Linked DNA regions of Homo sapiens. The gene in region 1 interacts genetically with each later gene. Each region holds a gene or a part of one and is shown in the gene's direction. Other genes may lie near its edges. The genes, in order: CREBBP, SMARCA4, HNF4A, STAT1, CPAP, STAT6 and KLF13.

Region 1 (4,208 bases):
TGCGGTCTCCAGCCCCTGTCCAGTCTCCACGGCCCCAGTCCCAGCCTCCACATTCCAGCCCGTCACCACGGATACAGCCCCAGCCTTCGCCACACCACGTCTCACCCCAGACTGGTTCCCCCCACCCCGGACTCGCAGTCACCATGGCCAGCTCCATAGATCAGGGACACTTGGGGAACCCCGAACAGAGTGCAATGCTCCCCCAGCTGAACACCCCCAGCAGGAGTGCGCTGTCCAGCGAACTGTCCCTGGTCGGGGACACCACGGGGGACACGCTAGAGAAGTTTGTGGAGGGCTTGTAGCATTGTGAGAGCATCACCTTTTCCCTTTCATGTTCTTGGACCTTTTGTACTGAAAATCCAGGCATCTAGGTTCTTTTTATTCCTAGATGGAACTGCGACTTCCGAGCCATGGAAGGGTGGATTGATGTTTAAAGAAACAATACAAAGAATATATTTTTTTGTTAAAAACCAGTTGATTTAAATATCTGGTCTCTCTCTTTGGTTTTTTTTTGGCGGGGGGGTGGGGGGGGTTCTTTTTTTTCCGTTTTGTTTTTGTTTGGGGGGAGGGGGGTTTTGTTTGGATTCTTTTTGTCGTCATTGCTGGTGACTCATGCCTTTTTTTAACGGGAAAAACAAGTTCATTATATTCATATTTTTTATTTGTATTTTCAAGACTTTAAACATTTATGTTTAAAAGTAAGAAGAAAAATAATATTCAGAACTGATTCCTGAAATAATGCAAGCTTATAATGTATCCCGATAACTTTGTGATGTTTCGGGAAGATTTTTTTCTATAGTGAACTCTGTGGGCGTCTCCCAGTATTACCCTGGATGATAGGAATTGACTCCGGCGTGCACACACGTACACACCCACACACATCTATCTATACATAATGGCTGAAGCCAAACTTGTCTTGCAGATGTAGAAATTGTTGCTTTGTTTCTCTGATAAAACTGGTTTTAGACAAAAAATAGGGATGATCACTCTTAGACCATGCTAATGTTACTAGAGAAGAAGCCTTCTTTTCTTTCTTCTATGTGAAACTTGAAATGAGGAAAAGCAATTCTAGTGTAAATCATGCAAGCGCTCTAATTCCTATAAATACGAAACTCGAGAAGATTCAATCACTGTATAGAATGGTAAAATACCAACTCATTTCTTATATCATATTGTTAAATAAACTGTGTGCAACAGACAAAAAGGGTGGTCCTTCTTGAATTCATGTACATGGTATTAACACTTAGTGTTCGGGGTTTTTTGTTATGAAAATGCTGTTTTCAACATTGTATTTGGACTATGCATGTGTTTTTTCCCCATTGTATATAAAGTACCGCTTAAAATTGATATAAATTACTGAGGTTTTTAACATGTATTCTGTTCTTTAAGATCCCTGTAAGAATGTTTAAGGTTTTTATTTATTTATATATATTTTTTGAGTCTGTTCTTTGTAAGACATGGTTCTGGTTGTTCGCTCATAGCGGAGAGGCTGGGGCTGCGGTTGTGGTTGTGGCGGCGTGGGTGGTGGCTGGGAACTGTGGCCCAGGCTTAGCGGCCGCCCGGAGGCTTTTCTTCCCGGAGACTGAGGTGGGCGACTGAGGTGGGCGGCTCAGCGTTGGCCCCACACATTCGAGGCTCACAGGTGATTGTCGCTCACACAGTTAGGGTCGTCAGTTGGTCTGAAACTGCATTTGGCCCACTCCTCCATCCTCCCTGTCCGTCGTAGCTGCCACCCCCAGAGGCGGCGCTTCTTCCCGTGTTCAGGCGGCTCCCCCCCCCCGTACACGACTCCCAGAATCTGAGGCAGAGAGTGCTCCAGGCTCGCGAGGTGCTTTCTGACTTCCCCCCAAATCCTGCCGCTGCCGCGCAGCATGTCCCGTGTGGCGTTTGAGGAAATGCTGAGGGACAGACACCTTGGAGCACCAGCTCCGGTCCCTGTTACAGTGAGAAAGGTCCCCCACTTCGGGGGATACTTGCACTTAGCCACATGGTCCTGCCTCCCTTGGAGTCCAGTTCCAGGCTCCCTTACTGAGTGGGTGAGACAAGTTCACAAAAACCGTAAAACTGAGAGGAGGACCATGGGCAGGGGAGCTGAAGTTCATCCCCTAAGTCTACCACCCCCAGCACCCAGAGAACCCACTTTATCCCTAGTCCCCCAACAAAGGCTGGTCTAGGTGGGGGTGATGGTAATTTTAGAAATCACGCCCCAAATAGCTTCCGTTTGGGCCCTTACATTCACAGATAGGTTTTAAATAGCTGAATACTTGGTTTGGGAATCTGAATTCGAGGAACCTTTCTAAGAAGTTGGAAAGGTCCGATCTAGTTTTAGCACAGAGCTTTGAACCTTGAGTTATAAAATGCAGAATAATTCAAGTAAAAATAAGACCACCATCTGGCACCCCTGACCAGCCCCCATTCACCCCATCCCAGGAGGGGAAGCACAGGCCGGGCCTCCGGTGGAGATTGCTGCCACTGCTCGGCCTGCTGGGTTCTTAACCTCCAGTGTCCTCTTCATCTTTTCCACCCGTAGGGAAACCTTGAGCCATGTGTTCAAACAAGAAGTGGGGCTAGAGCCCGAGAGCAGCAGCTCTAAGCCCACACTCAGAAAGTGGCGCCCTCCTGGTTGTGCAGCCTTTTAATGTGGGCAGTGGAGGGGCCTCTGTTTCAGGTTATCCTGGAATTCAAAACGTTATGTACCAACCTCATCCTCTTTGGAGTCTGCATCCTGTGCAACCGTCTTGGGCAATCCAGATGTCGAAGGATGTGACCGAGAGCATGGTCTGTGGATGCTAACCCTAAGTTTGTCGTAAGGAAATTTCTGTAAGAAACCTGGAAAGCCCCAACGCTGTGTCTCATGCTGTATACTTAAGAGGAGAAGAAAAAGTCCTATATTTGTGATCAAAAAGAGGAAACTTGAAATGTGATGGTGTTTATAATAAAAGATGGTAAAACTACTTGGATTCAAAGATGGTTCAGATTGGCTAATGACTTACAGTTAGCTCAACGGCTCGTCATTATAGGATTGCAGATGCGGGCCCGGTGCGGTGGCTCACGCCTGTAATCCCAGCACTTTGGGAGGCCAAGGCGGGTGGATCATGAAGTCGGGAGTTCGAGACCAGCCTGGCCAAGAAGGTGAAACCCCATCTCTATTAAAATACAAAAAAATTAGCCGGGTGTGGTGGCAGGCGCCTAGAATCCCAGCTACTCAGGAGGCTGAGGCAGAGAATCGCTTGAACCCAGGAGGCGGAGGTTGCAGTGAGCCGGGATCGTGCCACTGCACTACAGCCTGGGCAACAGTGAGATTTTGTCTCAAAAAAACGATTGTAGGTGGTGCTGGCCGGGCTTGGTGGCTCATGCCTGTAATCCCAGCACTTTGGGAGTCTGAGGCGGGCAGATCACATGGTCAGGAGTTTGAGACGAGCCTGGCCAATATGGTGAAACCCCATCTCTACTACAAAAAATACAAAAAATTGGCCGAGGTGTAGTGGCTCACGCCTGTAATCCCAACACTTTGGGAGGCCAAGGCAGGCAGATCACGACGTCAGCAGTTCGAGACCAGTCTGACCAGCGTGGTGAAACCCCGTCTCTACTAAACATACAAAAATTAGCTGGGCATGGTGGCGCACGCCTGTAATCCCAGCTACTCAGGAGACTGAGGCAGGAGAATCACTTAAACCCGGGAGGTGGAGGTTGCAGTGAGCCAAGATTGCACCACTGCACTCTGGCCTGGGCGACAGAGCAAGACTCTGTCTCAAAAAAAAAAAAAAAAAAAAAATATTCAGCCGGGCATGGTGGTGTGCACCTGTAGTCCTAGCTACTAAGGAGGCTGAGGCAGGAAAATCGGTTAAACCCAGGAGGCGGAGGTTACAGTGAGCCAAGAGCGCGCCACTGCACTCCAGCCTGGGCAACAGAGTGAGACTTCATCTCAGAAAGAAAAAAAAAATTGCAGATGTTCAGTGGAGTTTTTCTCTACAGAGCATGTGTTTGATGCTATCTTTGAAATTCTAGCATGTTAGAAACATAGAATGAGCTGTCCCTGGATAATGTGGCATGGAGAGGCTTCTGCTTCTAAGATCTCAGGTTGGGCTGGGCATGGTGGCTCACGCCTGTAATCCCAGCACTTTGGGAGGCTGAGGTGGGCAGATTGCCTGAGCTCAGGAGTTGACAACCAGCCTGGGCAACGTGGTGAAACCCCGTCTACTAAAATA
Region 2 (4,628 bases), on another chromosome or scaffold:
CTGGGATTATAGGCATGCGCCACCACACCTGGCTAATTTTGTATTTATTTTAGTAGAGGCAGGGTTTCTCCATGTTGGTCAGGCTGGTCTCGAGCTCCTGACCTCAGATGCTCCCAAAGTGCTGGGATTACAGGCATGAGCCACCGCACCTGGCATGAATTCTCTTTTTATGATTGATATCAGATCTACTCCGTGGATTAAAACCTGCCTGTAGCTTCAATTATCTGCCCAATAAGCTTTGCCTTATGTCCACTCCTGCCCAGCATCCTTCCTCACCCATCCCAGTCTCTCTGTTCCTCTTTTCATTTATTTAACAAGTTAGACTTGTTCCTGCCCCAGGACCTTTGCACAGGCTGTGCATGGCTCCTTCTACTCATTCAGGCCTGATTGCTGGGGTTCCCTCCTCATGGAGGCCCTTCCTGTCACTTCCAGCCACTCTCTGGAATTGCAGTGGATATTTTATTTTTTTTAAATCTCCTTTATGGCCTGTGTTTTCTAATGAGACTGAGAGTTCCTTGCTTTGTTGTTCTTGTTTAGTGCTAAGGCCCTGCACTTAAAATGGTCCCTGGCATACAGTTGGTGCTCAATGAGTATGTGCAGAAAGACTGATTAAGAGAATTAGCCCACATAACCTTCGCATGTAACCTTCGTAACCTTCAGACCAAGCCTCTAGGGTCACTCCGAGGGGTTGCCTCAGTTTTGAGGTGAGAATGCTGAGGTGTGCAGTTGAAATAGATTCCCACCGCCCTGCGCCTCATCCATGCCAGAGCTGCATGAAAACCTTGGCCCGCCTGACGCCAGAACCTGGCTCACACCACTGAAAAGGCATGACCTGGGCGCGTCTATCAGGAATCTTGTTTGCTGTCCCCTGAGGCCCGGTCCTGAGGAGTGCCCCGGGCTATCTCCCTCTCTGCTGTGCCCTGCGGCCAGCATCCTCTTCTGAGGCATCTCTTGCCTCATGACTAGTGCCTGCCTCTCTCGAGGGATGGGTCCCCTGCAGCTCCAGCTGTAACTGGGTGCCCTGGCAACCCTCTCACCGCCTTTGCTCCTTGTCTCTGCTCCCAGGCTGCAGGCTCGCATCGCACACCGAATTCAGGAACTTGAAAACCTTCCCGGGTCCCTGGCCGGGGATTTGCGAACCAAAGCGACCATTGAGCTCAAGGCCCTCAGGCTGCTGAACTTCCAGAGGCAGGTGGGTGCTGGCATGGCCGCAGCTTTCCGAAAAGGGCCTTTGTCACCAACACTGCTGCTAAGGCTCCAAATACGGCTTGCCTGGCTAGTATTACACCTGCCTGGGCTGTGAAAAGCAGCCGTGGCCATCCATGGGCACTCAATCACTGCAGAGCCTTCCTCTTACGGCCTGCGCAGTGCTGGGGACGTGGACCTCACTACCCTAAAGCACTTGCCGCCTCAAAGCAGACTTGTATGGGCTTCTTTCTTCCTTTCCCTTTCCCTTTTTTTTTTTTTTTGGAAACAGTCTTGCTCTATCACCTAGGCTGGAGTGCAGTGGCATAAACTCTGCTCACTGCAACCAACGCCTCCTGGGATCAAGCAATTCTTCTGCTTCAGCCTCCCAAGTAGCTGGGATTACAAGCGTGTGCCACCATGCCTAATTTTTATATTTTTAGTAGAGACAGGGTTTCACCATATTGGCCAGGCTGGTCTCAAACTCTTGACCTCAAATGATCGGCCTGCCTTGGCCTCCCAAAGTGCTGGGATTACAGGCATGAGCCACCACGTGCTGTCCTGCATGGGTCTATTTCTGAGGGTACTGTGCTTAGACCCTGGAGTGCAGTGGAGAGATCACAGCTCACTGCAAACTTGACCTCCCAGGCTCATGTCCTCCTCCCGCTTCAGCCTCCTGAGTAGCTGGGACTATAGGCGTGCACCATTACACCTGGCTATATTTTTCTTTTTTTTGAAACAGAGTCTCACTCTGTCACCCAGGCTGGAGTGCAGTGGTGCCATCTCACCCCACTGTGGCCTCTGCCTCTGTGGTTCAAGTGATTTTCCTGTCTCAGCCACTGAGTAGCTGGGATTACAGGTGTGCACCACCATGCCGGGCTGATTTTTTTGAAGTGCAGTGGCACAATCTTGGCTCACTGCAACCTCTGCCTTCCAGGTTCAAGTGATTCTCCCACCTCAGCCTCCTGAGTAGCTGGGATTACAGGCATGTGCCCCACGCCTGGCTAATTTTTGTATTTTTAGTAGAGACAGTGTTTCACCATGTTGGCCAGGCTGGTCTTAAACTCCTGACCTCAGGTGATCCTCCTGCCTCAGCCTCCCAAAGTGCTGGGATTACAGGCATGAGCCACCACGCAGGCCTGGTTTTTGTATTTTTAATAGACACAGGGTTTCGCCATGTCGCCCAGGCTAGTCTCGAACTCCTGAGCTCAAGCCATCCACCTGTCTCAGCCTCCCAAAGTGCTGGGATTACAGGCATGAGCCACTGCTCCTGGCCGCCTAGTTAATTTTTCTTCTAGTTTTTGTAGAAGTGAGGTCTCTCCATGTTGCCCAGGTTGGTCTCAAACTCCTGGGCTTGAGCAATCCTCCCACCTTGGCCTCCCAAAGTGTTGGGATTACTGGCGTTAAGCCACCACACCCAGCCAAGAGTGTTATACTTCTGAATGACTCCTAAGACGTGTGTGTGGTAGAGGGGAGGCAAGCTGGAGGTCCGAGAGGACCCCCTGGATAGATGTCCAGAAGTGATCACCTTCTGTCCTGTGCTCGCCCTGCCCGGGGGCACCTGCTAGACGTCCCCTGCACACACGGACTGGGTGTGTAAGGCACTTACAATGCTCCTTTAGCGGTGAAGCATGTGACATCACCATACGTGTTTGTCATTGTGGATGCCACAGAGCTGTGCAGTGCGCGGGCTTGTCCTCTTCCCTCCTACAGCTGCGCCAGGAGGTGGTGGTGTGCATGCGGAGGGACACAGCGCTGGAGACAGCCCTCAATGCTAAGGCCTACAAGCGCAGCAAGCGCCAGTCCCTGCGCGAGGCCCGCATCACTGAGAAGCTGGAGAAGCAGCAGAAGATCGAGCAGGAGCGCAAGCGCCGGCAGAAGCACCAGGTACGCTCCGGTGGCCCCAAGGCCCTGCAGCCCGCCCACCTGGCTGCCTGGCTTGTCCAGCGGTTGCCACGGGGCTGTGTTTGCTTTGTTCCTAAACATGCTGCTTGTCTCTCTCTTTTGCTCATTGTAACAGTATTCTAGGTACTGAGAGTGTATTGGTGTAAAAACCCAATGGTAGGGAGAAGATAGTGATGAAATCCACGCGTAGCACGTCTGGAAGGTGATAGGGCACAAAGAAAAATCAAGCCAGGATAGAGAGGAAGGAACGGGCTGTTGTAGAACTGATGTTGGGGGAGTTCTTTCTTTTGGAGGTGACATCTGGGCAGACCCCCAAGGAAGGGAGGCACACAGATCTGTGGGAAAGAGCTTTCTGGGAAAAGGAGAAGGTGCAAGGGCCCTGGGGCTGGAATGTGCCTGTGTTTTCTCTGGAAAGCAAGGACCTGCATGAGCCAGAGTAGAGTGAGTGGCGGGGAGAGCTGGAGGAAGGGAGCGCAGGGAGGTGACGAGCAGGTGATGCAGGGCCTTGCGAGCTGCATGGAGGATTTGGGCTTTTGCTCTGAGTAAAGTGGGAGCCATAGAGGGTTCTGGGCAGTGCAGGGACTGATCTGACTCAGGGTTTCCCAAGATGAATCAGTAAGACGGAAATCTTCAAATCTAAAATCAAGTAAGGATTTGGGGATGATTGTGCTGATTTGGTCATTTATAGATTTTCTAGAGATTTTCTATAATTAATATCTTATTGGTGTAGTGTAAAATAATCTAGACAGTCAACACAGCAATCTCTGTTAACTTTTTTTTTTTTTTTTGAGATGGAGTCTCGCTGTGTCACTGAGGCTGGAGTGCAGTGGTGCAATCTCGGCTCACTGCAACCTCCATCTCCTGGGTTCAAGCAGTTTTCCTGCCTCAGCCTACCTAGTAGCTGGGATTACAGGCACCTGCCACCATGCCTGGCTAACTTTTTTTTTGTATTTTTAGTAGAGATGGGGTTTCACCATGTTGGTCAGGCTGGTTTCAAATTCCTGACCTCAAGTGATCTGTCCGTCTTGGCCTCTCAAAGTGCTAAGATGGCAGGCGTAATCCCCCGTGCCTGGCCAACATTTTTTTTTTTTTTTTTTTTTGAGATGGAGTTTCACTCTTGTCACCCGGACTGGAGTGCAATGGCACGATCTTGGCTCACTGCAACCTCTGCCTCCTGGGTTCAAGGGATTCTCCTGCCTCAGCCTCCCAAGTAGTTGGGATTACAGATGTGCGCCGCCACACCTGTTTGTTTTTTTCTTTTTTTGAGACAGAGTTTCACTCTTGTTGCCCAGGCCGGAGTGCAGTGGTGCGATCTTGGTTCGACACAACCTCTGCCTCCTGGGTTCAAGCGATTTTCCTGCCTCAGCCTCCCAAGTAGCTGGGACTACAGGCACCTGCCACCATGCCTGGCTAATTTTTTATATTTTTAGTAGAGATGAGGTTTCACTATGTTGGCCAGGCTGCTGGTCTCAGACTGTTGACCTCGTGATCCGCCTGCCTCGGCTTCCCAAAGTGCTGGGATTACAGACGTGAGCCAC
Region 3 (4,628 bases), on another chromosome or scaffold:
ATGGCAGAGGATTTTGCTTTTCTCCATCACCATTCCCATCTTTTCTTCCCCATTTTTCCCAATATATTTTTATTGCTATTTTTGAGTCTCTGTTGCAAGTTATGTGCTTTTATCTTTCCTTTCTTGTTCTATCAACTGTAGACGGTATCTCCCAACCCTTCACATTGCAGGATGAAGAAAAAGCATTCCTACCCTCTCCTGTGGCTCTTGGCTCTCCTCTCCCCATTCTGTCCACTGACTTTTGCACCTGCATTTATACAGAATGCATTTGTCATCAGTCTTTGTACAAAACTTGCTTTTGTTTCCCAGCATCAAAGGTGCCTGAACTCTGGAGGCTTGCTTGCCTTCCCTGCTTACATGTTAGAGGGGACCTACTGTGTGCCAGGCACTGTCCTTCACGCTGCAAATAGATTACCTCTAGTAATAATAGTAATGAAAAGGCTGGGTGTGGTGGCTCACGCCTGTAATCCCAGCACTTTGGGAGACTGAGGCAGGCAGATTACTTGACGTCAGGAGTTCAAGACCAGCCTGGCCAACATGGTGAAACCCCGTCTCTACTAAAAATACAAAAATCAGTTGTGTGTGGTGGTCCGTGCCTGTAATCCCAGCTACTCAGGAGGCTGAGGCAGGAGAATCGCTTGAACCTGGGAGGCGGGGGTTGCAGTGAGCCAAGATCATGCCATTGCACTCCAGCCTGGGCAACAAGAGCAAAACTTCATCTCAAAAAAATACATATATGTGTATATATATATAATATATATTATATATATATAATATATAGTGATATATATAGTATATAGTGATATATTACGTATAATATATATTATATATAGTGATATATATTTTATATATATATAGTGATATATATTATATATAGAGAGAGTGATGAAGTGGAAGATGAGCCCCATGTATTGAATGCTCCCTAAAGAGCTGTTTTTAAACACTTTATGTGGATTGTCTTACTTACCAACATGGTACCTGTGAAGTAGGAATTATTATTATCTCCATTTTACAGATAAGGAAACTGAGGCATGATTAACTTGCTCAAGGTCACACAACCGGAAAATGGCAGAGCTTGGATTTGAACTTCAGACCACCTGTCAATCCCAATTTCTCTCTCTCAAGCCCACATTCTTACCTACCACCTGCTATCCCACACTTACCAGAGGGTGAGATTTCTAGTTCTAGTTCCCTCCACAGCCTGGCCCAGCCTGTATCCTCTGTAGTGCTCAACACGAGGCTGGACTGGCAGAATTGTTCTGCAAAATGGGAAGGATCACTGATGCTGAGTCAGAGGCAGCAGCCTCCAGCAATTTGAAGGGGCGGGGGACCTAGTTCAAGGCCTGGCATGCAGGAGGTGCTCAATAAACATGTGTGGCCTGAATGAACTAATGAATAAGCATGATTCAGTGGAGACAGCCCACTAGAAATGTGGGTGAATGTTCTTTCTGCCACTTCCTTTGTCCATGAAAGAGGAAATAAATGCATTACCTCCATGAAGGTTGAGATTAAATATTGTATGACCGCTTAAGTTCCTTTCTAGGCTAAGGATCTAGAATTTATTCACTGATTTTTTTTTCATTCATTCATCCAGCCATCTAACAAAAAATATACATATAGTTATCAATAAATATATATTTATATATAAATATATATTTTTTAAAATATATATATATATAGTCTGTCACCCAGGCTGGAGTGCAGTGGCACCGTCTTGGCTCACTGCGACCTCCACCTCCCAGTTTCAAGCGATTCTCCCACCTCACCTCCTGAGTCGCTGGGATTACAGGCATGTGTCACCACGCCAGGTGAATTTTTGTATTATCAGTAGAGATGGGGTTTCACCATATTGACCAGGCTGGTCTCAAACTCCTGACCTCAAGTGATCCCCCCGCCTCGGCCTCTGACAGTGCTGGGCTTACAGGCATGAGCCACCATGCCTGGCCCTATTCAATAAATATTGACTATGCATGGTGCTAGGTGGTGAGTTTGAAAAGGCAAAGGCCGGGTGCAGTGGCTCACGCCTGTAATCCCAACATTTTGGGAGGCTGAGGCAGGCAGATTACTTGAGGTCAGAAGTTTGAGATGAGCCTGACCAGCATGGTGAAACCCCGTCTCTACTAAAATACAAAAATTAGCTGGGTGTGGTGGTGTGTGCCTGTAATCCCAGCTACTCGGGAGGCTGAGGCAGGAGAATCGCTTGAACCCAGGAGGCAGAGGTTGCGGTGAGCCGAGATCACGCCACTGCACTCCAGGCTGGGGGTCAGAGGGAGACTCAGTCTCAAAATAAAATAAAATAAAATAAAAATGGCAAATAAGACATACGCGTGCCCCTGCCAAACTCACAGTTGGATGGCACAACAATTACATCCTGTGTGGTCAGCAGTGATGGAGGGGCCGCAGAGATTTGGAAACAGGAGGGACACAGGATACAGATATAGGAGGGTAGAAGGCAGACTTCCTGGAGGAGGTGAAACCTAACCTGAGTCCCTAAGGTGATAGGAAGCAGGAACCAGGGAAGGGGAGCCTATTCTAACACAGTAGAAGCAGCAACTGCTGAGGTCTGGATGAGGGGACCTCAACTGTGGCCCAAAACCCCAAGTTCCCATTGTGGCTCTGCCAACAACTGGCTGTGCGACCCAGGACAAGTCCTATCTTTGCACTGTGTCTGGGTTTCCCCGTGTGTAAGATGAGGCGGTTGCTAGGTGCTTATTGGATGCATTCCTCAAGTCCCGCCCTCCATCTCCTATTCCCCTCTCTTCTGGTTTAGTGCTTTAGGAAATGTGGCAGAAATCTTTTTCTGCCTGTGTCTAGGAAATCATAATTCATGCTGGCGTACCCTGGTTGTTGAGGTCCCTGAATCCTTGTGCCCACACTGCTGAAGACTCCTTGTGTGATACAAGTCAGGGGACATCTGGGTCTTGACTCCCCAGATGCTCCAGCTGGACCCTGCTGCCCTCCCTTGCCCACCCTCTTCCATTGTAGATGCCAAGGGGCTGAGCGATCCAGGGAAGATCAAGCGGCTGCGTTCCCAGGTGCAGGTGAGCTTGGAGGACTACATCAACGACCGCCAGTATGACTCGCGTGGCCGCTTTGGAGAGCTGCTGCTGCTGCTGCCCACCTTGCAGAGCATCACCTGGCAGATGATCGAGCAGATCCAGTTCATCAAGCTCTTCGGCATGGCCAAGATTGACAACCTGTTGCAGGAGATGCTGCTGGGAGGTCCGTGCCAAGCCCAGGAGGGGCGGGGTTGGAGTGGGGACTCCCCAGGAGACAGGCCTCACACAGTGAGCTCACCCCTCAGCTCCTTGGCTTCCCCACTGTGCCGCTTTGGGCAAGTTGCTTAACCTGTCTGTGCCTCAGTTTCCTCACCAGAAAAATGGGAACAAGGCAATGGTCTATTTGTTCAGGCACCGAGAACCTAGCACGTGCCAGTCACTGTTCTAAGTGCTGGCAATTCAGCAAAGAACAAGATCTTTGCCCTCGGGGAGGCTGTGTGTGTGTGAGTATGTATGGATGCGTGGATATCTGTGTATATGCCCGTATGTGCGTGCATGTGTATATAAAGCCTCACATTTTATGATTTTGAAATAAACAGGTAATATGATAGAGTTTAACTGAAAAGGAATCCTCTTTAGATAGGGGAGGCCACAGGAGACCTCTCTGAAGTGGTGACTCTTGTGCTAAGACCCTAACGGCTGAAAGGAAATGGAAGGCTTAAAAGACAAGAGAGGAATATTCCAAGAAGAAGAAACTACTTCAAGGGCTGCGGATAGGAGAGAGTGTTGTGTTTGAGAAAGAAGGGCAAGGTTGTGAGATGGAGGACGTGTAGGAGGTGAAGATGGAGATTGGGCAGAAACCAAATCATAAACATATGGCTTTGTCAGCCTTTTCAGAAATTTGGATTTTATTCTCATTGCAACTATTGTAAGGAGAGTGAAAACCAGACTAAGTATTTTTATTCTTTGAGACAAAGTCTCCCTCAATCATCCAGGCTGGAGTGCAGTGGCACAATCTTGGCTGACTGCAACCTCCACCTCCCGAGTTCAAGCAATTCTCCTGCCACAGCCTCCTGAGTAGTTGGGATTACAGGCGCCCGCCACCACGCCCTGCTCATTTTTTTATATTTTTAGTAAAGACAGGGTTTCACCCTATTGGCCAAGATGGTCTCAAACTCCTGACCTCAAGTGATCACCCACCTCAGTCTCCCAAAGTGCTGGAATGACAGGTGTGAGCCGCCACACCCATCCCAGACTAATGCTTCAAACAAACCACTCTGTTGGGTAGAGAGTGAATTGCAGATTCCTGAGAATGTCACTGTCTCCAATCATGTGATGGATGATGGAGGCTTGGACCCTGGCAATGGAGCAGTGAAGATAAACCTGATCATCTATTTGGAGGAAGAGCCCACACCCACAGGATTTGCTGATTGATCAGACATAGGGAGTGAGAGAAAGAGGAAGAGTCAAGGACAAAGTCTACATTTTTGCTTTGAGTAGCAGAAATGACGATGGAGTAATTTACTGAAATGAGGAGGACAGAATAAACAACAAGACACTGGGTCTGGGGGTGGTAGTGAGGGGTGACCTCAGAGATCCATTGTGGACCCTCTTTTCTTTTTTCCTTTT
Region 4 (4,628 bases), on another chromosome or scaffold:
CAAGCAGTTAGTAAATGGTAGAAAGAATATTTGAATCTACCTAGTGAGTCTCTAGTGCATGCTTTTGTCCGGTATCCTGGAAAGCCTCCCACAAAAAGCTAATCTTTGCCCCATTCAAAACATGCACCCTGAAGAAGCTGTTTGTACAGGATTGGGTTTATTCTGTTATTAAGACAAAGGCATCATGGCCTTTGGGTGAGAGGCCCGTATGTGTTTGGGATTTGGCAATCAGCATTCCATCTCTGTCATCACCATTATTGAGAAAATAGATGGATTGGTTCCCTCTCTGCAGTCCTGTGGAGCAGTTGGACTGCTCTCTCTGCTCTCAGGATGATACTGTGAGAACAATTTAAATATGCTAAGCACATGTCAGGAAACAGTTTTGTGGTCTTTGGACACTCGCTGTAGCCATTCCGTTCCATTTCAGGTGATTTTATTCATTTCATTTGTAGAATAAAATAAATCCATTTCACACACACACACACACACACACACACACACACACACCCTCTATACACCACTAAAGCCTCCCATTAAACCCATAGAAGACTTAAAGAGCTAAAAGAGGCTATAATATAAAAAAAAAAAAAGAAAAGAAAAGAAAAAGAGTTCATAATATAGGCACGGCACTGGTTAGACAACGGTTGAATCAGTCTCTAAATTGGGTTGACTTCACAATGGTTTGCTGTCCTGCCCCTTGGCCATGACTTCCATCCAGCATCTACTCTTAGAATCAGAGTGTATACTCTGAAACAGAAGCAGCTCTCCCCAAGCTGGCTGTCTTCTGCCAAGTCTGGAGGTTGCAGCTCTGAAAGAGGGTGGTACCAGGGGCCAACGCCTGGTGCAGCCTCAGGAGCAACAGGACCATAGGCTCCTGAGGAAATTGTCCAAGAGAGCCAGAGCACCAGTGTTCTCTGCAGTATGACTTGGGCATTTGTTTAGTCTGGATTTCCTGTGTAATCAGTGTTTTCCTCTGGGACTGTAATAGAACCAGTCTACTCTCCAAGAGGCCTTTAGCCAAAGCTCATAATGATAGGACTAGCTATTAATTGTCTACTACTTTCTGTCTACTATACTAAACATTTTACGTATGCCATCTAATTTAACAAGCCTATCTGCTAGGTACTATTAATCCCCTTTTGATAGATGAAGACTTTGAGATTTAGAGAGGTTAAGCCACTTGCCCTGGTCACGCAGTGACAGGATCTGAATCTGGGCTTCCTCTCTTCCTCTATCTATCTATCTCCCCCTCCCTCCCTCTCTTTACCCCCACGGTCCACCCTATTAAGCACACATTTGAAACATCAGCCAGGCCGGGCGCGGTGGCTCACGCCTGTAATCTCAACATTTTGGGAGGCCGGGGCAGGTGGATCACCTGCGATCAGGAGTTTGAGACCAGCCTGGCCAACACGGTGAAACCCCATCTCTACTAAAAATACAAAAATTAGCCAGCCATGGTGGTGTGTGCCTGTAATCCCAGCTACTAGGGGGGCTGAGGCAGGAGGATCGCTTGAACCTGGAAGGTGGAGGTTGCAGTGAGCCAAGATGGTGCCACTGCACTCCAGTCTGGGCAACAGAGGAAGACTCCGTCTCCAATTTGAAAAAAAAAAAGAAAGAAAAAGAAAAGAGAAACATAAGCTAGACTGAAACATAGGGGCAACACTTTCACTGTGCTTTTCAATCCAAAATAATTTTCCTAAGAGCCCACTATGTACCACACACTATTGAGCACTTGGGATTAAAAAAAAGTTCTCCAGAGGCTTTCCAGTCTAGTGCCATGTGTCTCAGTCTTGGTGCTACTGGTATTCGGGGCTTCAGAATTATTTGTTGGGGATTGGTGGGGTGGGGAGCTTTCCTGTGCTTCGTAGGAGGTTCAGCAACACCTCTGGCTTCTACCAAATAGATACCAGTAAGCACATGCACCCTCACAGCCAGATGGGACAATCAGCAATGTCTTCAGCCATTGCCAGGGGACAGAATCATCCTCGATTGAAAGCATCTGGTCTAAGGGGAAAGACCAGTGTGGAAGTCAGACAGGAAGTCACTGGCAGGCTAGTATCCTTTGGATGAACAGTTTACTTACTATAAGTTGTCCTGGTCAAGGCAGCTGGGCAGAAGGCACTGGTGGGGAAGGTGAAGGGGTTCTTAGTAATTCTGCTTCTTTAGTCTGTACCTGAAACACAGTCATTGATTTTACCCACTGAGTGGCCTTTAGGGGAAGTGTATCATTTCCCTCTCCTTCCTCTCTCCCTCTGGCATATGGCTCAGCATTTCCTCACCCGTTTCACATGAGCAGATTTGACACGTTGCTCTGTCCCCAGACTTGCATAACAGCAAAAAGCTTTATGCAGTCTGGATGGATTCACAAAATTAAGCCAGTGGGCAGCAGAGTAATAATCCGTCAGCTTAGGTGATATAAAAGGTCTTGATTAGCCCAGGATAATACATAGTACATGCTGAAGGCCCTCTTATTCCACGGTATTTATTTGCCATTGCAAGTATCTTCCTACTACTTCATTCTAGAATAGACAAGCAATGTTTAATGTATGAGTCTGCATTTCACAAGATCAGTGTAATAAACTTAACCACATTTTGTCTTTTTACAGATGAACACAGTATAGAGCATGAATTTTTTTCATCTTCTCTGGCGACAGTTTTCCTTCTCATCTGTGATTCCCTCCTGCTACTCTGTTCCTTCACATCCTGTGTTTCTAGGGAAATGAAAGAAAGGCCAGCAAATTCGCTGCAACCTGTTGATAGCAAGTGAATTTTTCTCTAACTCAGAAACATCAGTTACTCTGAAGGGCATCATGCATCTTACTGAAGGTAAAATTGAAAGGCATTCTCTGAAGAGTGGGTTTCACAAGTGAAAAACATCCAGATACACCCAAAGTATCAGGACGAGAATGAGGGTCCTTTGGGAAAGGAGAAGTTAAGCAACATCTAGCAAATGTTATGCATAAAGTCAGTGCCCAACTGTTATAGGTTGTTGGATAAATCAGTGGTTATTTAGGGAACTGCTTGACGTAGGAACGGTAAATTTCTGTGGGAGAATTCTTACATGTTTTCTTTGCTTTAAGTGTAACTGGCAGTTTTCCATTGGTTTACCTGTGAAATAGTTCAAAGCCAAGTTTATATACAATTATATCAGTCCTCTTTCAAAGGTAGCCATCATGGATCTGGTAGGGGGAAAATGTGTATTTTATTACATCTTTCACATTGGCTATTTAAAGACAAAGACAAATTCTGTTTCTTGAGAAGAGAATATTAGCTTTACTGTTTGTTATGGCTTAATGACACTAGCTAATATCAATAGAAGGATGTACATTTCCAAATTCACAAGTTGTGTTTGATATCCAAAGCTGAATACATTCTGCTTTCATCTTGGTCACATACAATTATTTTTACAGTTCTCCCAAGGGAGTTAGGCTATTCACAACCACTCATTCAAAAGTTGAAATTAACCATAGATGTAGATAAACTCAGAAATTTAATTCATGTTTCTTAAATGGGCTACTTTGTCCTTTTTGTTATTAGGGTGGTATTTAGTCTATTAGCCACAAAATTGGGAAAGGAGTAGAAAAAGCAGTAACTGACAACTTGAATAATACACCAGAGATAATATGAGAATCAGATCATTTCAAAACTCATTTCCTATGTAACTGCATTGAGAACTGCATATGTTTCGCTGATATATGTGTTTTTCACATTTGCGAATGGTTCCATTCTCTCTCCTGTACTTTTTCCAGACACTTTTTTGAGTGGATGATGTTTCGTGAAGTATACTGTATTTTTACCTTTTTCCTTCCTTATCACTGACACAAAAAGTAGATTAAGAGATGGGTTTGACAAGGTTCTTCCCTTTTACATACTGCTGTCTATGTGGCTGTATCTTGTTTTTCCACTACTGCTACCACAACTATATTATCATGCAAATGCTGTATTCTTCTTTGGTGGAGATAAAGATTTCTTGAGTTTTGTTTTAAAATTAAAGCTAAAGTATCTGTATTGCATTAAATATAATATGCACACAGTGCTTTCCGTGGCACTGCATACAATCTGAGGCCTCCTCTCTCAGTTTTTATATAGATGGCGAGAACCTAAGTTTCAGTTGATTTTACAATTGAAATGACTAAAAAACAAAGAAGACAACATTAAAACAATATTGTTTCTAATTGCTGAGGTTTAGCTGTCAGTTCTTTTTGCCCTTTGGGAATTCGGCATGGTTTCATTTTACTGCACTAGCCAAGAGACTTTACTTTTAAGAAGTATTAAAATTCTAAAATTCTATTAATCTCTCATTAATAGTATTTAATATAAAGATTCTTAAAATTACTGACGTTATGAATTGGTTTGATGCTTTTCTCATGTACCTCAATCCTTATTTTAAAATAAGATCAATAACACTATTTTCCTAAATGTTGTCCTTACCTGCCCTACACATATTCAGAATTGCTATGGCAGATTAAGACATGTCAATGGAAGAGGTCAGAGGAGTAATATTATTGGCAACAGCTGTAATAGGTGCCATAAAAAGCAAACAAACAAAAGTATTTTGGTTCTTTGCGACCACAGCTGTCCCCAAATATACAGATGATTCAGCACTTATTTTAAAATGAATCTGGGTA
Region 5 (4,628 bases), on another chromosome or scaffold:
TACCACCACTGGAGAGAGAGCCACATGCTGCTTCCCATCATATGTCTACCCGGACCCAACCCAGGAAGAAACATACCCGTCCAACATTTTATCCCATGAGCAAAGCAACTTCTGTAGAACTGCTCATGGAGATTTTGTCTTAACTTCAAAACGTGCGTCTCCTAATTTATTTTCTGAGGCACAGTATCAAGAAGCACCTGTGGAAAAAAATAATTTAAAAGAAGAAAACCGTAACCATCCTACAGGTGAGCTACTTATGTTTCTCTCTTCTGTGCTTATAGTGTTACTAAGTTGTCCTAAGATGAAGCCTTTCCATGTTTTTTCTTTAAAAATTATTTTTTCAGAGATGGAGTGTTGCCGTGTTGCTCAGGCTGGACTCAATCTCCTGGGCACAAGTAATCTTCCCCCATCAGCCTCTCAGGTAGCTGGGACTATAGGCACGTGCTACCCTGCCAGCTCTTTCTGTATGGTTATTTTTTTTTGTCCCCTGTGGCGTGTTTTTTTTTTTTGAGACAGTCTCGCTCTGTCACCCAGGCTGGAGAGCAGTGGCACAATCTCAGCTCACTGCAACCTCTGCCTCTCGGGTTCAAGTGATTCTTGTGTCTCAGCCTCCCAAGTAGCTGGGATTACAGGTATGTGCCACCATGCCCAGATAATTTTGTGTATTTTTAGTAGAGATGGGGTTTCAACATGTTGGCCAGGCTAGTCTCAAACTCCTGGCCTCAAGTGATCTGCCTGCCTTGGCCTCCCAAAGTACTGGGATTGCAGATCTGAGCTACTGCACCCAACCATAATGCCTTGTTCCTAATTTAGAGTTAATTCATCGGTGTGGAAAGCTCAAATATGTTTTTCTTCTTTTTTATACAACATGTTTCCATAGCCTTTTATTTTGGAAAATTTCAAACATCTAGAAAAGTTGAAAGACCACTGCAGTTATTACTGATATACCCACCACCTAGATTGAGCAGTTAATATTTTGCTGTATTTACTTTGTCAGTGTATGTATGTGTATATATATCTTTTACATGTATATCCTTATCTTTACTTCTATATGTGTATAATTTGCTGAACCATTTCACTGAAAATAATATGCAGGTATCTTGTTACTTCATTCCAAATATTTCAGTATGCATCAAGCAAAAATTAGGACATTCATCTGTATAACCACAGTGCTATTATTGTATCTAAAGAAATTAATGATAATTCCTTAATATTCAAGTCCATTTTGGGATTCCCCCAGTTATCCCAAAATATCTTTTAAAGGTGCTTTTTTTTTAAAGGATCCAATCAAATTAATGCATATCCAGTCAAGTTCATGTATTACGTTTGATTCTTACAACTCTTTAGCCTTTTTAATCTCTAGAAAACCCCACACTTTTTTCCTCATGACATTAACCTTTTGAAGAATGTCAAGTGTCTTTATTTTATTTTATTTTATTTTTGAGACAGGGTCTTCCTCTGTCACTTAGGTTGGAGTCCAGTGGCACCATCTTGGCTTACTGCAACCTCTGCTTGCTCTCAGCCTCCCAGGTAGCTGGGATTACAGGCATGTGCCACCACGCCTGGCTAATTTTTTTTTTTTTTTTTTTTTTTTTTTTTGTAGAGACGGGGTTTCGCCACGTTGGCCAGGCTGGGCTCGAATTCCTGGCCTCAAGTGATTCTCCCGCCTTGGCCTCCCAAAGTGCTGGGATTACAGGTGTGAGCCACCACACCCGGCCTCAAGTGTCTTAATTGGAGTTTTGTAGTTTCTCTTAATTATATTAAAGAATTCCTTGAGTGTTGTAAAATCTGTGATATACATTACTTTTAATTAAAAAAATGTTTTAGCATAGTAACTTGTAGAATTCTCATGTTTTAAGACATTAATATGCTTTTCTTGAGCTAAATTGTTCTTAATTTTTATCTCAGGAGAAAGTATCTTATGTTGGGAGAAAGTGACAGAACAGATTCAGGAAGCAAATGATAAGAACTTACAAAAACATGATGATTCCTCAGAAGTGGCTAATATTGAAGAAAGGTATTGTTCGTGTTGAAAGTGAGAAATGTGACTATTTAGTACAATAGCTAGCCTTTATTATTGAACACTTTCTTTGTTTGAAAGATCTATATTTTTCTGGTTTTTGCTTGACTATGCTTTTAAGGTTAAAGATACAACCTATTATGTACTGTCAACAACAAAAGAGGTTGAGGAGATATGTCAAGCTGCCTTGACATTGTATTCTCGAAGCTTTTTCACTTAAGAGAAACATCTGGATAAAATCAATTTTCTCTCAAATAGTTAAATCCTATTTTTGGAGAAGGGAAAAATTAAGTATTGACATCTCCCATTTGGTGTCACTTATCAATTATAATTGCATTATCAGTTTAGTTACAGAATTTTAAAATATGGCAAAGATTAAGTATTTTATATTTTAAGTAAGTTGATTATTTTAAAAATTTATTTCAAAATTTTTAATATAATATGGACAAAATGACTTTTCTGATTATTGTTCTCACATTAAGGGCCTTTCTTAATTAAAAAAATGCATATTTAGTGATCTATTTTTGAAATACATTTTAAAGTTATTTGATGAATATGTTACTCCATGTGTTAATCTGTGGTCGATAGATGGACTTCAGAAGGGTTCTTAGGACTCCAAAGTCATGTGAAGAGTGTTGTATGTTTCTTTATTTTAAGGTGTGGAGAGGGATTGTGGCTTTTGTTAGGTTCTCAAAGGGAGGCACTGATTTTGGGAAAAGTTAGTTCTCCATGTTGTCAAGGGTTTCTATACCAGGCACACTAAGTGTAAAATATTCACACATTATGATTTGCATGTTAAATAACTTTCTGTTTCTAATTAGGCCCATTAAAGCTGCTATTGGAGAAAGGAAACAGACCTTTGAAGATTACTTAGAAGAACAAATTCAGTTGGAAGAGCAAGAACTGAAGCAAAAACAGCTGAAGGTCAGCAATTGTGCTCTTCTGATTAAATCATTCTAAGGCTTTAGAGATTTATCTATAATTTGCCTTAAAAATAACTTTGAGATCACTTGGATATACCAAAATTAATTCAAATATTATTCTTTTATTTTAGGAAGCAGAAGGACCATTGCCAATCAAAGCAAAACCAAAACAACCATTTTTAAAACGAGGAGAAGGTTTAGCTAGATTTACTAATGCCAAATCTAAGTTTCAAAAAGGCAAAGAAAGTAAACTAGTGACTAACCAGAGCACTTCCGAGGACCAGCCGCTGTTTAAAATGGATAGACAGCAACTCCAGCGGAAAACCGCTCTTAAAAATAAAGAGCTGTGTGCAGACAACCCTATCCTTAAAAAGGACAGTAAAGCTAGAACCAAGAGTGGTTCTGTCACCCTCAGTCAGAAGCCGAAAATGCTGAAGTGTAGTAACAGGAAAAGTCTTTCTCCGTCAGGATTGAAAATACAGACGGGGAAGAAATGTGATGGGCAGTTTAGAGACCAGATCAAATTTGAAAACAAAGTCACATCTAATAATAAAGAAAATGTAACTGAGTGTCCAAAACCTTGCGATACTGGCTGCACAGGGTGGAATAAGACACAAGGTAAAGACAGACTTCCTCTTTCAACAGGGCCGGCCAGCCGGCTGGCTGCTAAGAGCCCCATAAGGGAGACCATGAAAGAGTCTGAATCTTCTCTTGACGTTTCTCTTCAGAAAAAGTTAGAGACTTGGGAACGAGAAAAGGAAAAGGAAAATTTGGAATTAGATGAATTTTTGTTTTTAGAACAAGCTGCTGATGAAATATCATTTTCTAGTAATTCCTCATTTGTACTGAAAATCTTAGAAAGGGATCAACAGATCTGCAAAGGTCACCGGATGTCTTCCACCCCTGTCAAAGCTGTGCCACAGAAGACAAATCCGGCAGATCCCATTAGTCATTGTAACCGCAGTGAGGATTTGGACCACACTGCACGTGAGAAGGAGAGTGAGTGTGAAGTCGCACCCAAACAACTTCATTCATTGTCCTCAGCTGATGAATTGAGGGAACAGCCTTGTAAAATCAGGAAAGCCGTCCAAAAGAGCACTTCTGAAAATCAGACTGAATGGAATGCACGTGACGATGAAGGTGTTCCAAATAGTGACAGTAGCACTGACTCTGAGGAACAGCTTGATGTTACCATAAAACCATCGACTGAGGATAGAGAGAGGGGCATCAGCAGCAGAGAGGATAGCCCACAAGTCTGTGATGATAAGGGGCCTTTTAAGGACACCAGGACCCAAGAAGATAAAAGGAGAGATGTTGATCTGGATTTGTCTGATAAAGATTACAGTAGCGATGAGTCTATCATGGAAAGCATAAAACATAAAGTGTCTGAGCCCTCGAGATCCTCATCCCTAAGTCTGAGTAAAATGGACTTTGATGATGAAAGAACTTGGACTGACCTTGAAGAGAATTTGTGTAACCATGATGTTGTTCTTGGGAATGAATCCACTTATGGGACGCCGCAGACATGCTACCCTAATAATGAAATAGGTATCCTGGACAAAACAATAAAAAGGAAGATTGCACCAGTCAAGAGGGGAGAAGACTTGAGCAAGTCCAGGAGGAGCAGAAGTCCTCCTACATCGGAGCTGATGATGAAATTCTTTCCTTCTTTGAAACCAAAACCA
Region 6 (4,628 bases), on another chromosome or scaffold:
TGATCTGCCCGCCTCGGCCTCCCAAAGCGCTGGGATTACAGGCATGAGCCACTGCGCCTGGCCGAGCCTTGTGGTTTTCAAATTATCTCATGGAGTCCTAGAATTTTGAGAGGTTTGTCTAGGGATGCCTTTGGCGTCAGGAGGTGGGGAGAGGGAAGTAGAAGCAGTCGAGTTTCAGGCTTTCCATGCTTGCTTTCAACAGGGCATCTTCGGTTTCGTACCTTTTATGTAATTGAGATTCCACAGATTAAAAGCTGACATTGCCTACCGCTTTAAAAAGTTTGGAAAGTTTTCCACTCATCTAACACTCATATTTTATAGATGAGAAGATCGAAGCCCACAAAGGGAAGGCTCTTTGCCCACAGAACCAGAGCCAGGTCTAGAGCTGCAACTAAATCCTCTGCCACTCTAAGAGAGCTCTCGCTCTACTGCCCTGTCTCCCTTTGCCTCCCCATCCCTCTGGCTACAGCTCAGCTCTTCCCACCCCTGTGTCTATCACTGAAGGAGTTACCCCCATCTCAGGCATTGACTCAGGATGCCCCTGGTTTAAGGTGGTCTGGCCATGAGTGGTGGTGGGGACGGTCCCTAGGAGGGCTATCTATGGGAGGTCCCTGGCTGCCCCAGGAGATAGGCCAAGTTTCTTGGGCACCCCTCAGAGTGGCCTTATTTTTCTCCTCCAGGCAACCTCCAAGTCCCAGATCATGTCTCTGTGGGGTCTGGTCTCCAAGATGCCCCCAGAAAAAGTGCAGCGGCTCTATGTCGACTTTCCCCAACACCTGCGGCATCTTCTGGGTGACTGGCTGGAGAGCCAGCCCTGGTGAGTCCTGGCTGCTCCCTGCTGGTCCCCCAAGTCTTCCCTAACTCATCTTCCTTCTCCTTAGATTTTTCTCCCCTCACCCATGGATTCAGAACTTGAGACCTGTTATTCCATGTGTAGTGACCTAGATTTAGCAGGGAGTCTGTGCCCCATCAAGACCAGGCTATGAATGTTGACAGATGGAGACCCCATCTCTTAGGAGGCTGAGCCGAAGAGGAGGGGGGTTTGGGCTGGGACAAAGGCACTTCTCATAACAGCTAGAAGACTGGGAAACAAGGCGCATGGGTGAAAGCTACAGAGGGCCTAGATGGAGAATAAGGAGCGAGAAAGGAACTGCTGAGCTTTTGGCTGTGGGGTAAAGGGTCAGGAGAGCTGAGGAAGCCCTGGCCTGAGGTAGCCTCATCCTGATCTTCCTGCAGGGAGTTCCTGGTCGGCTCCGACGCCTTCTGCTGCAACTTGGCTAGTGCCCTACTTTCAGACACTGTCCAGCACCTTCAGGCCTCGGTGGGAGAGCAGGGGGAGGGGAGCACCATCTTGCAACACATCAGCACCCTTGAGGTGGGGCAGGAGGGGAGGGGACAAGGCTGGGTGGGGCTGAGGTTGAACTGGGTTGAGCATTGGGCCCTGGAAGAAAATTGGTTGGATGCTGGAAGCAAATTGGTGTTCCTGTGGTTAACTGCTAGCTAGCAGGCAAATTAGATTTTAAAAGCATGCAAATGCACAAAAACTTCTGGAGTCTACAGTTGTGCTTCCTTATAGTATATGTGTGAATGCAGGCCTGGGGATTGGAGGGATTGAAGGACATGGGTAAGAGCAAAGCTCACTGTTTACCACCCTCATTTCTGTAGAGCATATATCAGAGGGACCCCCTGAAGCTGGTGGCCACTTTCAGACAAATACTTCAAGGAGAGAAAAAAGCTGTTATGGAACAGGTATTGTGATATTCCACCTCCCACCCCAACTCAATCCCCTGAGACTTTGGCCTGAGCCATGACAAACTAGAAAGAATTTGAACCTCAGTAAAGGCTCAGTGTTCTAGGCCCAGGAATGACCAAAGGAGGTTCCTAGGGTCAGAGTGAACCCCAAGTCAAGCTCAGGGAATCTTTCTATGAGGGACTGAAGGTAAGAGGCCGGGGAGAACAGAGCAAGGGATAAGGAGCTGATTCTGCTAGGAGCAAGGTCTTATCTCCACGATATTCCAAAAGGTCAGGAAGAACTGCCAAAGGGGAGAGGGGAACAAGAAAACGCTATCTGCAGAGCAGAGAGTGGAGGCCAGGTATAGAGGGATGAGCAGAGTGTTTCACTTCTTGGCATCTGTCCTTCCTGTGTAGTTCCGCCACTTGCCAATGCCTTTCCACTGGAAGCAGGAAGAACTCAAGTTTAAGACAGGCTTGCGGAGGCTGCAGCACCGAGTAGGGGAGATCCACCTTCTCCGAGAAGCCCTGCAGAAGGGGGCTGAGGCTGGCCAAGGTGGGGGCCAGGGTGGTTCTGGGGAGTGTGTAGGAGTGGTTGCCTCTTGGATCTCAACCTTATCTGAACCTCTAATCTGTCTGCACCCTTGATTTCTGCCCCCAACCCTCAGTGTCTCTGCACAGCTTGATAGAAACTCCTGCTAATGGGACTGGGCCAAGTGAGGTGAGTAATGGGCTGACAGGTGGAGACCTTGGTCAAAGTGCAGCTGGAGGGATGGAAGCTAGACCTCAGAAAGACACAGGCTGAAGTAGGGCAAGGGAATGCCAGAGGAGTGAGAAAAAGAGCCGTATCCCAGGAGCTGGGTGTGGAGGCAGCGTGAGGCCCTGGCTCAGGCCCCTCTCTGCCCATAGGCCCTGGCCATGCTACTGCAGGAGACCACTGGAGAGCTAGAGGCAGCCAAAGCCCTAGTGCTGAAGAGGATCCAGATTTGGAAACGGCAGCAGCAGCTGGCAGGGAATGGCGCACCGTTTGAGGAGAGCCTGGCCCCACTCCAGGAGAGGTTGGGCTAGGGCTGATGGGGAAGAGGGGGCAAGCTGGGGGTGGGCAGCTGACCCTGCTGAAGGCCCTACAGGTGAGAGAAAGAAGCCAGGCGGGAGGGCCTTGGAGTGGACCAAGATGCATAAAAGCCAGTTCCAGCGGGGCTGTGCACACTGTCGTTCAGGTCGCATCCTGTACAAGTGGGCCTAGTGGAGGGGCACAAGCGGGGACTCATCCAACCCAGGCTTCTCTCCTCAAGCCCCATGCCTAGAGGAATAGGAGGGCTTTTCCATTTGGTTTATTGGGTGGGAACACTTTCCAATTTGCCACAAAGCACTGTAAGTGGTGGCAGTTGTCCTGGGTGCAAGAGCCGTCGGGGGAGAGGCAGCTGGGTTTCCACAGGGGGTGTAGGCACTGAGAATGAACCTCCCACCCAGACCCTAGGCCAACAGATCACAGAACCCCCTTCAGCCCAGGTGCCTTGCAGCCACACCCACTACCCACCCCACTTCTCCACACATGATAGCCTTTCTCCCTGGGTATAGGGGAAGGGGGTCTGGGCCGGAGCAAGCAGCCTTAATCCTGTGCCCCCTGACCACTGTCCTGGCCCCAGGTGTGAAAGCCTGGTGGACATTTATTCCCAGCTACAGCAGGAGGTAGGGGCGGCTGGTGGGGAGCTTGAGCCCAAGACCCGGGCATCGCTGACTGGCCGGCTGGATGAAGTCCTGAGAACCCTCGTCACCAGGTATTCCCCGGGAGCTCCCAGTCTGGCCTAGAACAGACCTCGGGAAGAAAAGAAGGGGGCTAGAGCTGTGGGGAGGGCACCAGCAGGGACCTAGCCCCCAACTCCCCTTGTGTCCTCCTCACTCCCAGTTGCTTCCTGGTGGAGAAGCAGCCCCCCCAGGTACTGAAGACTCAGACCAAGTTCCAGGCTGGAGTTCGATTCCTGTTGGGCTTGAGGTTCCTGGGGGCCCCAGCCAAGCCTCCGCTGGTCAGGGCCGACATGGTGACAGAGAAGCAGGCGCGGGAGCTGAGTGTGCCTCAGGGTCCTGGGGCTGGAGCGTAAGCTGGGATTGGACCTGGGGTTGGAGAAGGGCTGTTAGGGTGATGGAGGCAGCCTGGAGGGCTGGCACTGAAAAGAGCAAGGGATGGGGAGGGAGGGCCATGGGATGTGGAGACCCTGAATGGTCAAGGCAGAGGAAAGGGAGGGACCCATTTAGGGCTGGAATGGGGTGGGGGCATCATGATTTGGCCAAGATGGGGACTCCTCCCTTAAGAACCCAAACAGAGACATGGAGATTTAGGGCTGGTGACAGTGGGTAGTCTACACTCACCCATGCACTCGCCACACCTGACGACAGTGAGATGAGCTCGTTCACACTCTGACCTCCCCTGGCAGAGAAAGCACTGGAGAAATCATCAACAACACTGTGCCCTTGGAGAACAGCATTCCTGGGAACTGCTGCTCTGCCCTGTTCAAGAACCTGGTGAGGGGCTTTGGGGTGCAGTGAGGGGGGCACCACTAGGAGACTGTGGGACTCTCCTTGGAGAGGATGTCAGGAAGCCCAGGAGGAGCGGTCTCTGTCCTCATGACCTCGCCCTTGCTCTCCCTCACCCCACCCACAGCTTCTCAAGAAGATCAAGCGGTGTGAGCGGAAGGGCACTGAGTCTGTCACAGAGGAGAAGTGCGCTGTGCTCTTCTCTGCCAGCTTCACACTTGGCCCCGGCAAACTCCCCATCCAGCTCCAGGTGAACCGTGGCCCAGCCCTGCCCCAATCTGGGACCCCGAGTCCTCCTCCAATGCCACACACAAGGGCCCTGGACCCTCACCTCTTGTGACTGCCCCATACCCCATGTGTCT
Region 7 (3,282 bases), on another chromosome or scaffold:
GCAGGGGCCCACCTTCATCTCTGCCTTGATGGATTTGTCACAGAAGCTCTTGGAGGTGGGGCATGTGGGAGGGGTGTTGAGAGACCAGGGTGTTGGGTGTTGCGGGCCCTTCCCCAGAGAGGGTGTGAAGGCGGGGCCAGGTGCGGATACTGATGCTCTGCCCCTGTGCCCACAGGTGAGAGGCCCTTCGCCTGCAGCTGGCAGGACTGCAACAAGAAGTTCGCGCGCTCCGACGAGCTGGCGCGGCACTACCGCACACACACGGGCGAGAAGAAGTTCAGCTGCCCCATCTGCGAGAAGCGCTTCATGCGCAGCGACCACCTGACCAAGCACGCGCGCCGCCACGCCAACTTCCACCCGGGAATGCTGCAGCGGCGCGGCGGGGGCTCGCGGACCGGCTCCCTCAGCGACTACAGCCGCTCCGACGCCAGCAGCCCCACCATCAGCCCGGCCAGCTCGCCCTGAGCCCGCCACAGCCATGAGCAGCCGCTCCCACCCCCTCGTGAGTCCCTGGCCTTTCCTTTTGTAATAAGAAAGAAGAGAGAGAACTTGATGCAAAGTCCACGAAAAAACAATTTTTTTCACCTCAGGTGTCAAAGTAAATTTGTTAAAAAAACAAAAAAAACACAAAAATTTCAAAAAACACCACCCACCAAATTGCACAATAGATACACCCACAAAGTTGAGATTCAGCGTTGTTGAACCCCCTTTCTCAGGGATGGACACGTTTCACGAGGTCAGTGAGGACACCCCTTCCTGCCGCCTTACTCTGTACATAGATTTGCACTCTGGAGTTTTCTGTTAGGTTCGGGAACACGCTGGGGACAGAGCAGGCCAGCCAGTCTGGTGGAGCTCAGCGTCTGGCTGGCTGGCCAGCCTGTGGGTCTGTTGGGAGCAGATGTGCTCACTGACGTTTGTGCCTCCAGGGCAGATTCCTAAGCAGCTGGCCTGACCTCTTCCTGCCCAGCCCCCAACCCAGTCTCTGGCCTCTGCCCAACGAGCCTGGCTGGGCTTGCAACGCAGCTGATTCTGAGACAGGCCCCTGCAGAGGGATGCCTTAAAGCTGTCCCTGGCTGGAGGAGCACTCCACCTTGGGGATAGTGGAGGGGGCCTTCAGCCCTCTGCACCCTGCCTGCCTCACACCCCGCCTTCAGGAGCCCTCTCCTACGGCGCTAGGGAGCACTGGAAGCAGAGATGCCAGCCCTGGCTGAGCGTAGCACTGCACCGTCCGACCTCCGAGGCAGGGGCCGGGGTCACACCTGCCAGGACTCCGCTTCTCCGTGTCCCAGCAGAAGGCATGCAGGACCCTGTCACTACTATACCTGGGCCTCTGATGGGGAATTCTGGTCTTCTAAAAAGATGTTAGAAATTCCTGGTGGCACATCCAGTTCCGAGTTTGCCCGCACGGGCACTTTTGTTGGAAACAGTGGGCAGGTCATGGGGCCTCCTCATCAGAGGGTCTGTGTGAGCGGCTGTGCATGTGGCAGCGCACCATGCTTCACAGAGACCATTCTGTAGCAAGAGACCGGAACATTGTGACTTGGACCTTTTCAGGAGTGGCGCGGATGTTACAGGAAATGCTGTCGGAGAGCGCGCATTCTATTTCCTCCGCAGGGAATGCCAGATAGAAAGTTGCGGGCAACACTTTTCTCAGACCCACCATGTCCCCAACTCAGACTTAGCAAACCTCCAGCCTCTCCGTTTCCCCTGGACTCCTCCTCCCTTTTCCTCCTGCTTCTCCTTGTCCTGCCTGGAGGCTCCAGGCCACACCCAGCTGGTGGGGCTGCTCCAGTGCCCCATCACCGGCCTTCTCCTGGCAGGAGAGGAGGAGCAGAGAGCTGGGTCCTGGGCTGGGATTCGAGCCCTGGGCGGGGGTCAGTCAAGCCGTGGTCCAGCAAACTCCTCTGCAGATGGCTGGAGTGTTGACCCAGGCTTGTGGCCCAGGTATCACCTTCCCTTCCTCCTGAGAGTTGAGGCCTGTAAATACAAGGGCCCAGGACAGAGTGTGTGCGTGCGTGTGGGTGTGTGCGCGCGTGAGCACACACGCGTGTGTTGGGGGGGGTGGGGGGATTGGGGTGGACTCAGGGTATCTTGCCAGAGATACCTGTTTTGATGAGTACCTATTTTGATGCAAAGGAACGGCCCTGGGACCTCAGAGGGCCACAGATGGGCTTCCTGGGCCTAGCGTGCCTTGGTTGTGGCCATCCTGCTTCTACTCAGCCCTGCCATGCTATGGGGTGCAGCACAAACCCAGGACCCAGGCCTAGCCACTGCCCACAGCTGATGGTCACTGTTTTGGCTGGCTCCAGAGTGGACAGGTACGCTCTGTCCACAGCAGCTGCTCAGGCACAGTATGCCGTCAGGTGCCCGCTTCTTACCACTGTGTGTCAGCTGGGATTGGCCGACAGCGTGGTGGTGACTTCTAGGTAGACCGATGGACCCTAAATTGGGCAGTGGCATTGTTTCTGCTGTGGTGGGAACTGGCAGGGAGAGGGTCACCTCCACTCTGGTTGGATGCGGAGCTGGTCCCTCTGGCTGCCATGCTGTGTTGGGGCTCTCTGACCTCCCTGCTTGCATTGGGTCTGGGAGAGAGAGTGGAATATTTGGTAGGGACCTTGACAGAAGAGAGCCCTGGGTGCTTGTGGTGCAAAGATCTTCATGCCCAGTTCCAAAGTGAGGTCCCTCCCAAAGTTGTTTTCGTGTGAGGCAGAGAAAGCCACACTCTGAATACATTTTATGTCTCAGGAATTCACATTCCAGGTTCAGGAATTTTATTCCAAAGTCCTTTGGTGCACTCACCGTCCACCGTTCCCCAAGGCAGGGAGAGGGAGTGGCCCGTCCCTGGGAGGCTGGCAAAGTGCTCTCCAGGGAGGGGTCAGACGTCCTTGTGATCTGCCCAGGGTGTCACGGAAGGAGATTTTCTAGCTCCACATCTGTCTGCACATAGGAAGGAAAAGATAGGACTCTAAACCTAGTCATCTTGGAATAAAAAGAAGAGCTGGTTTGTTTTAGAGCAGGGCGGGGGGTGGGGGAGGGAAGCGGGTGTTGGCTGTTTCCAAAGAGAGCACTTAATTTAATTTTTCCTTTAAATGACCCAGGGCTGTTCCGTCTGATAGATGGAAGGGTAACATTGCCTTAAAACAGAAATATGCAGGCGTTGGCTATTTTTGGCATAAGAGCGTGTCTTCATTCCCAAAGTGGTTCTCGTTTAATGGCAGGGTGCGGTCCTTAGGCCCCGGCCTGGACTGGGAAATGGGGGTAGGGCACCAGGAGAGAAATCCT

Evidence for each region.
Region 2: of CREBBP (region 1) and SMARCA4, changing one enhances a phenotype caused by changing the other (phenotypic enhancement), as found in Homo sapiens cells (one study listed by BioGRID).
Region 3: of CREBBP (region 1) and HNF4A, changing one enhances a phenotype caused by changing the other (phenotypic enhancement), as found in Homo sapiens cells (one study listed by BioGRID).
Region 4: of CREBBP (region 1) and STAT1, changing one enhances a phenotype caused by changing the other (phenotypic enhancement), as found in Homo sapiens cells (one study listed by BioGRID).
Region 5: of CREBBP (region 1) and CPAP, changing one enhances a phenotype caused by changing the other (phenotypic enhancement), as found in Homo sapiens cells (one study listed by BioGRID).
Region 6: of CREBBP (region 1) and STAT6, changing one enhances a phenotype caused by changing the other (phenotypic enhancement), as found in Homo sapiens cells (one study listed by BioGRID).
Region 7: of CREBBP (region 1) and KLF13, changing one enhances a phenotype caused by changing the other (phenotypic enhancement), as found in Homo sapiens cells (one study listed by BioGRID).

What each region holds. Positions count from the first base shown.
Region 1 is NC_000016.10:3,723,812-3,728,019, reverse strand, and holds the end of CREBBP (CREB-binding protein), read left to right. Parts: coding exon 1-302; 3' UTR 303-2,966; downstream 2,967-4,208. UniProt on the Homo sapiens protein: Acetylates histones, giving a specific tag for transcriptional activation. Mediates acetylation of histone H3 at 'Lys-18' and 'Lys-27' (H3K18ac and H3K27ac, respectively).
Region 2 is NC_000019.10:10,988,252-10,992,879, forward strand, and holds part of SMARCA4 (SWI/SNF-related matrix-associated actin-dependent regulator of chromatin subfamily A member 4), read left to right. Parts: intron 1-1,065; coding exon 1,066-1,192; intron 1,193-2,898; coding exon 2,899-3,072; intron 3,073-4,628. UniProt on the Homo sapiens protein: ATPase involved in transcriptional activation and repression of select genes by chromatin remodeling (alteration of DNA-nucleosome topology).
Region 3 is NC_000020.11:44,421,033-44,425,660, forward strand, and holds part of HNF4A (hepatocyte nuclear factor 4-alpha), read left to right. Parts: intron 1-2,985; coding exon 2,986-3,222; coding exon of another isoform or gene 3,223-3,347; exon of another isoform or gene 3,348-3,611; intron 3,612-4,628. UniProt on the Homo sapiens protein: Transcriptional regulator which controls the expression of hepatic genes during the transition of endodermal cells to hepatic progenitor cells, facilitating the recruitment of RNA pol II to the promoters of target genes. Activates the transcription of CYP2C38.
Region 4 is NC_000002.12:190,968,696-190,973,323, reverse strand, and holds the end of STAT1 (signal transducer and activator of transcription 1-alpha/beta), read left to right. Parts: intron 1-2,606; coding exon 2,607-2,621; 3' UTR 2,622-4,175; downstream 4,176-4,628. UniProt on the Homo sapiens protein: Signal transducer and transcription activator that mediates cellular responses to interferons (IFNs), cytokine KITLG/SCF and other cytokines and other growth factors.
Region 5 is NC_000013.11:24,905,407-24,910,034, reverse strand, and holds part of CPAP (centrosomal P4.1-associated protein), read left to right. Parts: coding exon 1-245; intron 246-1,908; coding exon 1,909-2,017; intron 2,018-2,841; coding exon 2,842-2,944; intron 2,945-3,074; coding exon 3,075-4,628. UniProt on the Homo sapiens protein: Plays an important role in cell division and centrosome function by participating in centriole duplication. Inhibits microtubule nucleation from the centrosome. Involved in the regulation of slow processive growth of centriolar microtubules.
Region 6 is NC_000012.12:57,104,352-57,108,979, reverse strand, and holds part of STAT6 (signal transducer and activator of transcription 6), read left to right. Parts: intron 1-680; 5' UTR 681-701; coding exon 702-817; intron 818-1,236; coding exon 1,237-1,375; intron 1,376-1,665; coding exon 1,666-1,749; intron 1,750-2,148; coding exon 2,149-2,287; intron 2,288-2,399; coding exon 2,400-2,452; intron 2,453-2,640; coding exon 2,641-2,789; intron 2,790-3,380; coding exon 3,381-3,512; intron 3,513-3,640; coding exon 3,641-3,829; intron 3,830-4,166; coding exon 4,167-4,254; intron 4,255-4,388; exon of another isoform or gene 4,389-4,393; coding exon 4,394-4,516; exon of another isoform or gene 4,517-4,620; coding exon of another isoform or gene 4,621-4,628. UniProt on the Homo sapiens protein: Carries out a dual function: signal transduction and activation of transcription. Involved in IL4/interleukin-4- and IL3/interleukin-3-mediated signaling.
Region 7 is NC_000015.10:31,371,835-31,375,116, forward strand, and holds part of KLF13 (Krueppel-like factor 13), read left to right. Parts: intron 1-175; coding exon 176-465; 3' UTR 466-3,282. UniProt on the Homo sapiens protein: Transcription factor that activates expression from GC-rich minimal promoter regions, including genes in the cells of the erythroid lineage. Represses transcription by binding to the BTE site, a GC-rich DNA element, in competition with the activator SP1.